2 separate regions of the Homo sapiens genome follow, and region 1 is linked to region 2. Evidence: fine-mapped expression QTL. A gene starts in region 2. The other region holds a variant in brackets. All regions are shown on one strand. Distances are between the middles of the regions.

Region 1 (5,375 bases), 150 kb before region 2:
TTCAGGATCAGGGGTTGCAGCCTAGTTGCAAAGGAAACTGACTTAAATCCAAATGTGTATAACAAACACATTACTTTAAGTTAGAATGTGTTAAAAATTAATACAAATTGCAAAAGTTATTTCTACAAATGCTTGGACTTGATTGAGAAAACATCGAGTTCCCATATCAAAAACTAAGGACACCGAAATGGGTGGCTTTGGGGGTGCTGAAGACCAGGATGTAGCCCTCTCAGAAGTGTGGCCCTGAATTCCTGCTCTCCTTGGGGGCAGCATGGTGCTTCTCCAAGACTGCCCGAGATGTGCGTGATGGAGTGTCTGTTCCCAAAGCAAAGGACAGGAACAGAGAAGTGTGTGAGTATGTTTGCTCCGGAAACAGTAAGGGAAAAAATCATGAAGTGAGTTGAAATATTTCATCTGTGATTAATCACTGGGAAAAAAACATTTTCCAATAATTAGACCAAGTTAATGGGCCTAGCAAAGCCCACAGTCTCTGCTCTTCATCTGTTAGTTATAAATGGAGCCACAGAAGCCTCCGGGGCTGGAGCCGGGGCCCAAGAAAAGCCTCAGTGTTTACATTATTGTTTTAATATTTGGCAAAAAAAAAAGTATCTAAATCTTTGGTCATCATTCAGATGTTAGCATTCAGAGCCTTTATAGACTCAGCACTTGTTTTTATTTCCTGTCCTCCAATTTAAACAGAGACAGCAGGAAGGAGGCTGTTGACAAGATGATGGTTATGCCAACTCCAAGCCTAGTGTTCTCCTGGGGCCTGCCAGGCCACCCCCACTGTAGCCCTTCACCTGGGGTCCTGCATCTCGGCCTTTCTCTCTAACCTTCTAGACCCTTCCTTGAATTCATGTCTCTTACTCTTCTCTTCCTCCTCATGTTTCCCCTCCCAATTGGGCTAGTCACATGTCATCATGTATGTTGAAGTATTTTGTGATTGGTATTGAATAAAAAGAGCCCCCACCTCTTAAGTATCTCCTGGGTATTTTATAGGTTTTACTTAATTTAATTCTCACCACAAGCCTACAAGGAAGATTCTATTATCTCCATCCCAGTGAGAAATCTTTATCCTGGTCAGGAGGCTAAACAACTTCCCCAAAGTCACAGATCAGACATTCACACCTAGGTTTCTAGAATTCTAAAACTCATGATCATACTGATTGACTTATGCTGTTGTTGTCACTATGAATAATAATTACTGTTAATAGTTAATGTTATTAAAGACAAGACTAATAATTCTTTTGAAGATCTTAACTATCTGTCACGTGAATTGTTAGCCCTCCAAAGAATATCGTATCATAATAAGCAAATGCAAGTTCCCTTTAAGATTAGCCATAAGAATCTGAGTGTCAATCCCTACACCAGATAATGTCTTTTGACGGTCAGTATGTTCCCCATCACTGTCTTTTGTACCACAGACACTGAAAACCTAGAAATTAGATTTCCCAGAGTCCCTTCCAGCAGGGGCTCTGCCAATGAGAGATATTCAGATGACATTTGGAAGATGAATAAGGGGAAGACGTTGTTTTCTGGAGGCAGCTGCGGGGTTTCTAGGTACCATCCTGAGAATCATCACTAGGTGCTGCGGGTAGCCTAGGTCCTGGTAGCGGCTTTGCCAGGATTCCTGGTAAACAGATTCCTTGGTAGTGAGCAGCAGTCTTCCCAATCATTGCTCCCCAGCCCTTCCAAGGATTGTGTAAGCCTCTATCTCCTCATACTAAATTCGCTTCCAACCTGAAATGCCTACAGTAACTTCTATTTTCCTGACAACCATGACTGATACATTGCCCAAGGTAATGAATCATTAATAATAAAATTAAAGCAATAAAAAAATAAGATATATTGATTACCTACTATGTTCAAGACATTGTTTTTGATGTTTGAATAGCAACATTAATAAGAAAGAATCCTTTCCTTTGAAGAAGTTAATGTTTTTATGCTTCTAAAATATTCATTGAATAAATGAATACAAACAGTGAGAGAAAGAGAAATTTAGAAACTCTATTGTCCAGAACAATAGAATGAGTTTGGACTAGAGGGCAAGAAATAACTGGGATCAC[A/T]TCCTGGTTCTGCAATCCACTTACTGTTTAACTACGGACTGTCACTGCAGAGCCTCTTAACATATTTTCCTATCTTTAGTCTCACCCTGTGGAAGCTATGTGGGTTTCGGATTTGGGTGGACCAAGGTCAGCCACTCCTTAATGGTTATTGACATAGACTAATATTTTCCATCTGTAAAATAGGTTTTAAAGGCACCAAAATGAGCGCATAAAGACAGAAGTCAAAATTGTTCAGTTTCCGTGCAGCAAAGCATTTAATGAATGTGGCCTATAATGAAAAGTTTTAATTCTTTCTTCAGGTCTTCCTCAAACATTTAAGGATCTCTGTGACGGCTGGCCTCCAAGGCCCCCAGTGATTCTCACTTCCTGGTATTCATACTCTTATATAGGTCCCTTCCCCCAACACCAGAGAGGTCTGACTTGTGTTACTAGTTGGATATTGCTAAAATGACTGTGTGTGACTTCTGACATTGCCACATCCATCTTGCTATTTCCTGGATTACTCAATCTGGGCGCGGGGGGGTGGGGGGATGCAAGTTACCATGCCATGAGGATGCTCAGTGGAGAGATCCACGTGGTGGGGAACTGAGGCCTCTTGCCCACAGCCATGTGGGTAGGTCATCATGAAAGTGGCTCTTGTCAGCCTAGTCAAGCCTGGCCAATACCTCACTGCATGATGGACTCTGAGCCAGAACCTCCCAGCTAAGCTACTACCAAACCCCTGACCCACTGAAACTGTGTGAGATAAATATTTATATTATTTTAGGCCAAGTTTTGCAATACTTAGGTGCATATAATGAATACAGGGTCCAAAAATTCAGTTCACAGAAATGCATTAAATCACTTGCCCTGTCCTCTGCTCTAGCACTCCATTCTTGGGAGCCTCTTACCCTTCCGTCCTAACAGAACCTTCTCACCAGCTTTCCCTGTTGCAGCTGGTTATACTCGCATCCCCTTTAACCTCACCACAGCGACTCCCACATGACAAGTGCCTGAGAAGTCACGTCTTCTCACAGAGAACAGCCTGTCCAGGGATTATATTTCTTCTGTTTTTGTTGCTTTTCCCCTAAAAAAAAATCTGTTTCTGCCACTTTCATCTTTTCTATACTTAGAGACGTTGGGGGGTGGGGGGGGGGGGTGGTGCGGCAGGGGATAGAGAGTGGAGAATGACGCCAAGTGGACTAAGGAGGAGTGACAGCTGTGAAGTGGTTTATCCATGACAGAATACATCAGGTCATTGTAGGAATTAACAGTGGCTTATCCATTACAGAACACATCGGGTCATTGTAAGAACTAAACAGGGTGGTGCGTTTACCATGCCCGGTAGCGTGTCTGACAAACAGTCTGTCTTAGTTCCTTCCTGTCTCACCAGGCCCTATCACCTCTCTTACAGCCATACAGAACCACTTGGAGTTCACCTCCATCTTTCACATCTACTTGCATTGGGATTTTCTGTTCCCTCTGAAAGGAATGCTGTGTCTGTTCTTGACTATTTGGTTACCTCTTAGGCAATCTACAAAATCAGCTCAAGTTCTAACAGTTTTGGAAAGCCTTCTTTGACCTCCCCAGGACAATAATACTGTCCACCTCTCTGCTGTGTTCCCATTTCTCAATTATTAGCATTTTACCATTGCTATAATTACATTCTTACATGTTACCCGTTGACTGACCCAGGAGGACCTCAGGGGCAGGGAATATATTCTCATGTTTATAGCCTCTACTCCTAGCACAGAACTTTTCATAGAGGGGAGAGGTAGAGAAGATGATAAAGAAAGAGAGAAAGGAAGAGAAGGAGGTAGTAGATACTGGTTGGTTGCTCTCCAGCATCTGTTTCCCCTTCTCTCTCCAGCCTTCCCATGTCAGCCCTGCTGATTGAGTGTGATTGATGCCACCCCCAGGAGTGGGTTAGATTGGTCCAAAGAATTAGCCAGGCATGGTGGCAGGCGCCTGTAGTCCCAGCTACTTGGGAGGCTGAGGCAGGAGAATCACTTGAACTCGAGAGGTGGAGGTTGTAGTAAGCGGAGATCTCGCCATTGCACTCCAGCCTGGGCAACAGAGCAAGACTCCATCTCCAAAAAAAAAAAAAAAAGAAAAAGAAAAAAAAGGAAAGGAAAAAAAAAGCACAGTATTCCAATTTCCTTACTACCAATCGGTTCAGAGATGGGTATGTAAACCAGTCAGGGACTGGTTTACCTGAGTCTGCAGGTAAAGACAAGCCTCTTCCTTTTATGAAAGCTAACAGAGATCCTCTTCTCTTCCTACTGAATATGAATAAGGCAGAGGGTAGCCCTGGGAGCCGCTGGCACCATTTTGTACTTCAAAGGGAAACCTGTCTGAGAATGAAGCAAACATTTAGCAAGAAAAGACCAGAGATGGAGAGGGGAAAAAAACAACAACAACTACATCCTGATGAGATTGTCTGGGCTCTGAAACAATCCACACCTCTAAGTGCGAACCCAATGCTTTCAGATAAGAAAATTCTCTTATTATTAAAGCCAGTTTCAATTAAGTTTTCTACTACTGGGAACATAAAGAGTCCTAACTGATATAAGAAGAAATTAAAAAAAGAAGTTAAATTTTCTCATCTAAAATGTCTAAGAAATATAATTAGATATTTAAAGGAATAAATTTCATTTATCTGGGAAATTCACTTGTCTAGAATTTTTTTAATCCCCCAGTGATGTCCAATGAGAAAGACATGCTGTACCTATCTGTCCAACTAGATGGTAAGCCTGTTGAAGGCAGAAATTATTTCTTCATTCATTTATTCATTCAGCAAATATAGAGCATCTTCCAAAAGTTAGGTATAGAGCATCTTCTGAAAGTTAGGCACTGGGCTGACACAAAAAGAAGATAAGGTCTTTGTCAAGTGCAGGAGACAGACACATCTGCCCATCCTCTGTGGTGTCTGGGAGGGACACCGGGGTGGCAATTAAGATCAACAGATCGTTTCATGACTGCTTAAGTTACCAGGAATAGGAAGAGCAAAGAAGAGAACAGGAAATTGGGGCCTGGAAAGAATGCTAATTTGATCCAGGTTGAAGACACTGTAAAGGGAGTTATGAAAGAGAATGCCAGTTGAGAGACCTGGTCAGTTAGGAAAGAAGTGCATTCAGGGATCAGCTGAAGGAAAGGCTGACTCATTAGGAACTTGCCAAGAGAGTGAGAGAGCCCAGAAAGAAAGGACAGTGGGTTCCCAATGGTCAGAGTGAAGAAAGTGTTTGGGAAGCTGAGGTGGGTGGATCACCTGAGGTCAGGAATTCGAGACCAGCCTGACCAACATGGCAAAACCCCGTCTCTATTAAAAAT
Region 2 (5,375 bases):
ACCTCCAAAGATTCTGCTTTAGTAGACCTGGAATAGAGCACAGGATTTGCAGTTTATTAAGTGTCCTGAGGCTAGTGTGTTTGGTGGATCACACTTTGAGAAACAAGGTGGAGAAATCAAAGCTTTCAAGTGGAAAATCACAATGTTGCTTGTTAAGCGCTGAGGGGACATTAAGTGCTGAGAGAAGAACCAAGAGCTTTGGAGCACCAAAGAGGAGCCGTAAACTCTGTGGGGGTAGGTGTCACAGAAATGACACCTCAGCTGAATAGGGGACCTAGCAAGTGGAGAGAAGGGGAAGAATTTTGAGGCTGCCATATAGGTGTTTTCTGGGAGTGGTGAGGCAACTGAGGGGCACAGTGGCTACAAAAAGGCCAGAAGAGCAAACAGGGTCAGAGCACAAAGGGCCTTGTTTGTTAAGTTTACTTATCTGTGATGGGGCATCAGAAATGTTTAGATTAGTGAATGACAAGTTGAGATTTGACTTTTAGAAAGTTGATTTTGACTTCCATGTGAAGAACAGAATGAGGGGGAACAGAGAGACTGCACAGAGACCCATGAGGAGACTGGTCATAATACAGGCAAGCTGCAATGAGGAACTGAAGTCAGGCCATAGGATGCAGATGGACAGCGGGGGATGGACACGGGAGATATGTTGGGAGCTGGGGTGGATGGAGAGTGCGTACCTAGCTTGCAGAGTGGGTGACATCCACCTAGATTTGCAGCCAGACATGGATTTAGGTGGAACATGGGGGAAAGCAGTAATGAGTTTTCATTCAGGTATATCTACTAGAGAAGTCAGGAACTTGCTAGAAAAAATGGAGATCCAGGTTGAGCTTTATTTAGAAGTATGATAAACTCGTGTTTGGTAATAATTGAAGGCATAGATGTGGTCGAGAGTCCTCAAAAAGAAGAACCTTAGAGTGAAAAAAAGGTGACATTGGATTAGCATCCCAAGAAATAGGACCTCAAGAAATACCAACATATAAAAGATGGGCAATAAATGCCTATTGTGAAGGCATTTCAGAAGGAGTTTAGAGATGTGTGACACCTTGGTGATGGTAACCTTGAAGAATCAAATAAAAAAATAATGCTATATGTCATTATTATTTTTGTTCTTTACTCTTCCACTAATCACATGGACTAATATGCTTTCTCTTGCGGAGTGTCATGTCAAAGGTACAACAATTTAAAAAACGGAAGTTAAAGGATCATCTTTCTAACAAATGTCAGCTCAACTCCAGGAATAGAAGACATACAGGTAGGTTTTTACCTCATTATTAACTCAAGAATCATTTTTCCAGTACTACTATGTGCTTGTGTGGATGATGTGGAGGTGAAGGGATTGGTCCCCACACTCAACATGCTTGCCTTAGTATGTAAAACAAACATCACAGGCTAGGCGCAGTGGCTCATGCCTGTAATCTCAGCACTTTGGGAGGCCGAGGCAGGTGGATCACCTGAGGTCAGGAGTTTGAAACCAGCCTGGCCAACATGGCGAAACCCTGTCTCTACTAAAAATACAAAAATTAGCAGGGGAGTTGAGAATGGAGAAGTGATCTCAATGAGGTAAAAATGGGCCAGGGAGAGCTTACAAGAGAAGATGACTTTTTAATACAATATAGTCAAAGATGTAAAACAGAAGGTTTTGCTGTAAAATGAAAAGAGTCCTAAATCCAGGTTCTAATCCTGCTACCACCTCTGCTAGGTAACCCTGGACTAGTCCTTTAACCTTCCAGTGTTGGCTCTGTTCTCCAGGAACCTGCAAGCAGCAACCACACAGGGCTTGGAAGGGAGAGTGGCTGTTCTCCACACACAGCAGGTTGACTTGTTCCAGGTGCTTCCAACAGGTGATTTCTCAGCGAGCCTGAGCCAGTAGTCAGGGACAAACAGGAAGGTTAACCTTGCCTCTCCATGCTTGGGAGAACAGGTGTGTGCGCGGTGGACTCCGGTTCAGTCGTTCTTTTTCTTTTTTCTTGCTTTTGATGGGATCAGATGGTTCATTTCCAAAGAGAGACAGAGAGAACTGTATCGTATTTAGGAGCAATAGCCTTGGAGTAAGACTTGTGCTTAAACTCTGGATTTGTTTCTTATCCCCTGGGTGACCTCTGGCAATTTATTCCACCTCTCTAAGCCTCAGTCTTTGTTACCTAAAAAATTGGGATAAAGATACGTACCTCCTATGGCATGTCGCGGAGATTAAAGGATAATGTGCACACCCCCGAGCCCAGTGCCGGGCACACGGTGGCTGGTTGCAACAGAAATCTGTGGGTGGAACGCTAGCTAGCCATTGTGATGAATAACATCAAGGAGAGGGAGTGGACCTACACATGGCAGTCCCCTTCTTCCCCAACCGCTGCCAGGCAGACAGCCAGCGTCCTAGAACTTAAAGGACTTTTCGATGGCTGGAACCTGGGCCGGGTGGGCTCCCTGGCGCGGACGGAGGCGGGGAGCGCTGGCGGGGGTCTCCGTCTCCAGCCACGGGAAGGTCCGTGGGCTCCCCTGCCCGGGCTGGGCCGGTCCCCGAGCAGAGAGAGAGGCTGGTCCCCCGGCCCCCGGCGTCCCGGGGGGCAGGTTCTGAGGCGGGAGCCAGGGAGAGAGAGGAGGGGCAACCGGGGGAATTTCCCCGCCTCTCTTGCTGGTTCCATAAATCACCGCAGCCGCCGCGGCGGCCCAGCCGGGAAGTGCACAGAGCCGGAGCGCAGCGTGGTGGCACCAGACGCCTCCCTTTCCCCACCGCTTGCTTTCTTTCTTTCAGTTGTGTGGGTTTGTGAAGCCTCCCCTTTCCCTCCTCGCTCGGGTGGCTGCCCCAGTCTCGCAGCCCGGCCGCCGCTCCTCTTCCCCGGGGGCCGCCGTCAGTCCTCGCCGCCGCCTGCTCGCTGCGCTGGGACTCGCAGGAAGCGAGAGCCGCGCGGCTCGGCTCGGGCTCCGACTCCGACTCCGATTCCGACTGTCAGCCCCGGGGCCCGCGCACCCCGGCCTGCGGGCGCCCCTGCTCTCGGAGACGCCCTCTGCGCCGCGGGGCCCGTGTGGGCGCCGGGCTCCGGGGACCGCTCGGGCGGCCGCCTCCTACCCCCACCGCCGCGGAGCCCCGCGATGGTGGCCGCCCGCGCTCCCGCGCTGTAGCCGGGCGCCCCCTAAGTTTGGGAGCCTTCGCCACCGCGGCGCGGAGCAGAGCCTGCAACAGAGGAAGAAACTTTTGCGGGGTGCGCCGCGCTTTTGCGGGGGGCACCTCCCGCGGCCCGCTTCCCCGCGCCCGGAGCCCGTCGGCGGGGAGTGGGGGGAGGCAGCATGGCCCGCCAGCCGGAGGAAGAGGAGACGGCCGTGGCCCGGGCGCGGCGGCCGCCCCTCTGGCTGCTCTGCCTGGTCGCGTGCTGGCTCCTGGGCGCCGGGGCCGAAGCCGACTTCTCCATCCTGGACGAGGCGCAAGTGCTGGCGAGCCAGATGCGGAGGCTGGCGGCCGAGGAGCTGGGGGTCGTCACCATGCAGGTAAGTGGCCCCCGAGCTGGCCAGACATCCCGCCTTTCTCCTTTGCTCAAACTCCCATCCCACTCCCGGTACAAGTCCCCTGGACTGTGTGCATCGGCTCCTTGCATACATAGAGCCCGGCTTCCCGTCGGACCCCTCTGTCCTCTGCACAGACCCCCTGACAATACACCAACTCTTCTTCCATGCATTCGTCTACCCCTGCCCTTCTCTGGAGAATCCCCTGCCCTCTGCACGGAACCCACTTGACCCTGCACAGCCCCCCTCTTCTGAGTACCAGCGCCTTCATCTCGTCAAGGATTCTCCAGTTTCCTCGCACGTCTTCTCTAATTTGCACACATTTCCCATGTAGGCTTGTTTTCACCCTGCCACGCCTGCAAACTCCCCCTTTGTGTCCCCATCCCAGAGCAGCCAGCCCCGTCTGGCTCGGACGATTTTCCGAAGTCCCCACCCCACCCCCTTGACCGCGTCCTCGCGTCCTCGCGTCCTCCCTACCGAGGCGCACCAATGGGCGCCGGGAGGGAAGGCGCCGCAGAGTACGCAGCTGCCCCGGGGACACCTAGGTCCCGGCGGAGAGCGGCCCTCCGAGTGGGCTCCGCGCTCCTTTCCCCTCCCGGGAGCATGGGGGGAGGGGCTGGCCTGGTAGATTCTGGGTAGACTCCCGACTCTAATCCTGCTGGGGGACTCTTTTTGTTGCTTTCCGCATATCCTGCTGTAGTTTGCGTGCTGTCTGCTGTATGATTTTTGTTTCGTGTGTGCCTTTTTGGGTCGAAGAAAAAGGGAGCAAAGTGAATAAGGTTCCCATTTCTCCAGATTGTTTATCATGTCCGTCCTCCTCGGGAGAGGAAGGAGGGCTGACAGAAAAACTGCCCGCAGCTAGTAAGGAATCCTGATGATGTTACTCACGACCAACAGTAGTAAAAATTGCTGAACACCAACCACCTGGAGATTCTGCCCCGCTGTTATTTTAATCCACTTGGCCATAAAGGCCCACTAGATTAGGAGAGGTTGAGATGACATTCCCAGCTTGAAACCTTTGCTATAACATTCTTAGATAAAATAACACCATTCTCTTACACATTCTAACAATCATGGGGATGAATGTGGTCTTCGAAAGATTGAAGTTTCCAAGAATGCGTTCTTGGAATAGGTTTCTGATTTCCATCCTACTGTGACCACTCCTTCCACCTCCCACCGGGAGAGGTGTTTAAGTCACTTTTGGGATTTAGGTTTCTTACTTCTTTCTTCTTCGTCGCGTCGTCCTCCTCGTCTTCTCCTTCTCTTCTTTCTTCCTTCTTCTTCCTCCTCCTCCTCCTTCTCGTTCTTCTCCTCCTCTTTCTTTTCTTTTTCCTTCTTCCTTCCTCTTCTTTCCACTTCCCCACACCAATCTCCTCCCAAGAGGTTACAATTTTCTTGAGGAAAGTTCCACAGACCTTCTCTACTGTGGGGAAAGACCACCGGAATTTTTTAAAGGGTGACATGAGGACTGAGGAGTGGATGGATTTTGAAAGGTAATTTTGCATTTATTTGCAGACACCCAGCCCTGAAGTGCAATGGAGTTGGGTTTTCTTGATTTGCATAATAATAGATAAGCTTTTAAGATGCATCATTCAACTATGCCGATCTTTCAGGTTCAGATTCAGTTGCAATTTTTTCCATATGCATTTTCTGATTTCTGATTATTGCTGAGTTCTTAGGAGTGAAGTGACTTTTAGAAAAGATAGAAAACTAGGATTAAAAAAACAGTGGTGAATATTTCCATTCAGAGCACAATTGTATTTTTGCATTGAGGCACCTCTTTTAATAAAGGAAACTTAATATATTGGAGTTGTGGACTCTGCTTGTAGGATTTGTAGGCACTTGCCACCTTCACTCCATCCCTAGGGCTGGAC

Evidence for each region. PIP is the estimated chance that this variant, and not a neighbour inherited with it, causes the effect.
Region 1: its variant is fine-mapped to the expression of CACHD1 in nasal epithelium (TOPMed, PIP 0.98).

What each region holds. Positions count from the first base shown.
Region 1 is chr1:64,318,090-64,323,464 of GRCh38, forward strand. No RefSeq gene overlaps it. Among named protein-coding and RNA genes, the nearest start is that of UBE2U, 120 kb to the left of the region's middle. The variant A/T (reference allele first, on the strand shown) is at 2,067.
Region 2 is chr1:64,467,457-64,472,831 of GRCh38, forward strand. CACHD1 (cache domain containing 1) reads left to right here and starts at 2,673. Exons shown (of 27, transcript NM_020925.4): 1 at 2,673-3,486. The coding sequence starts at 3,289. LOC107984966 (a long non-coding RNA gene) reads right to left here and starts at 2,569. Exons shown (of 2, transcript XR_001738100.2): 1 at 1,730-2,569; 2 at 817-914. RefSeq lists a silencer at 2,883-3,002 and an enhancer at 4,802-5,375.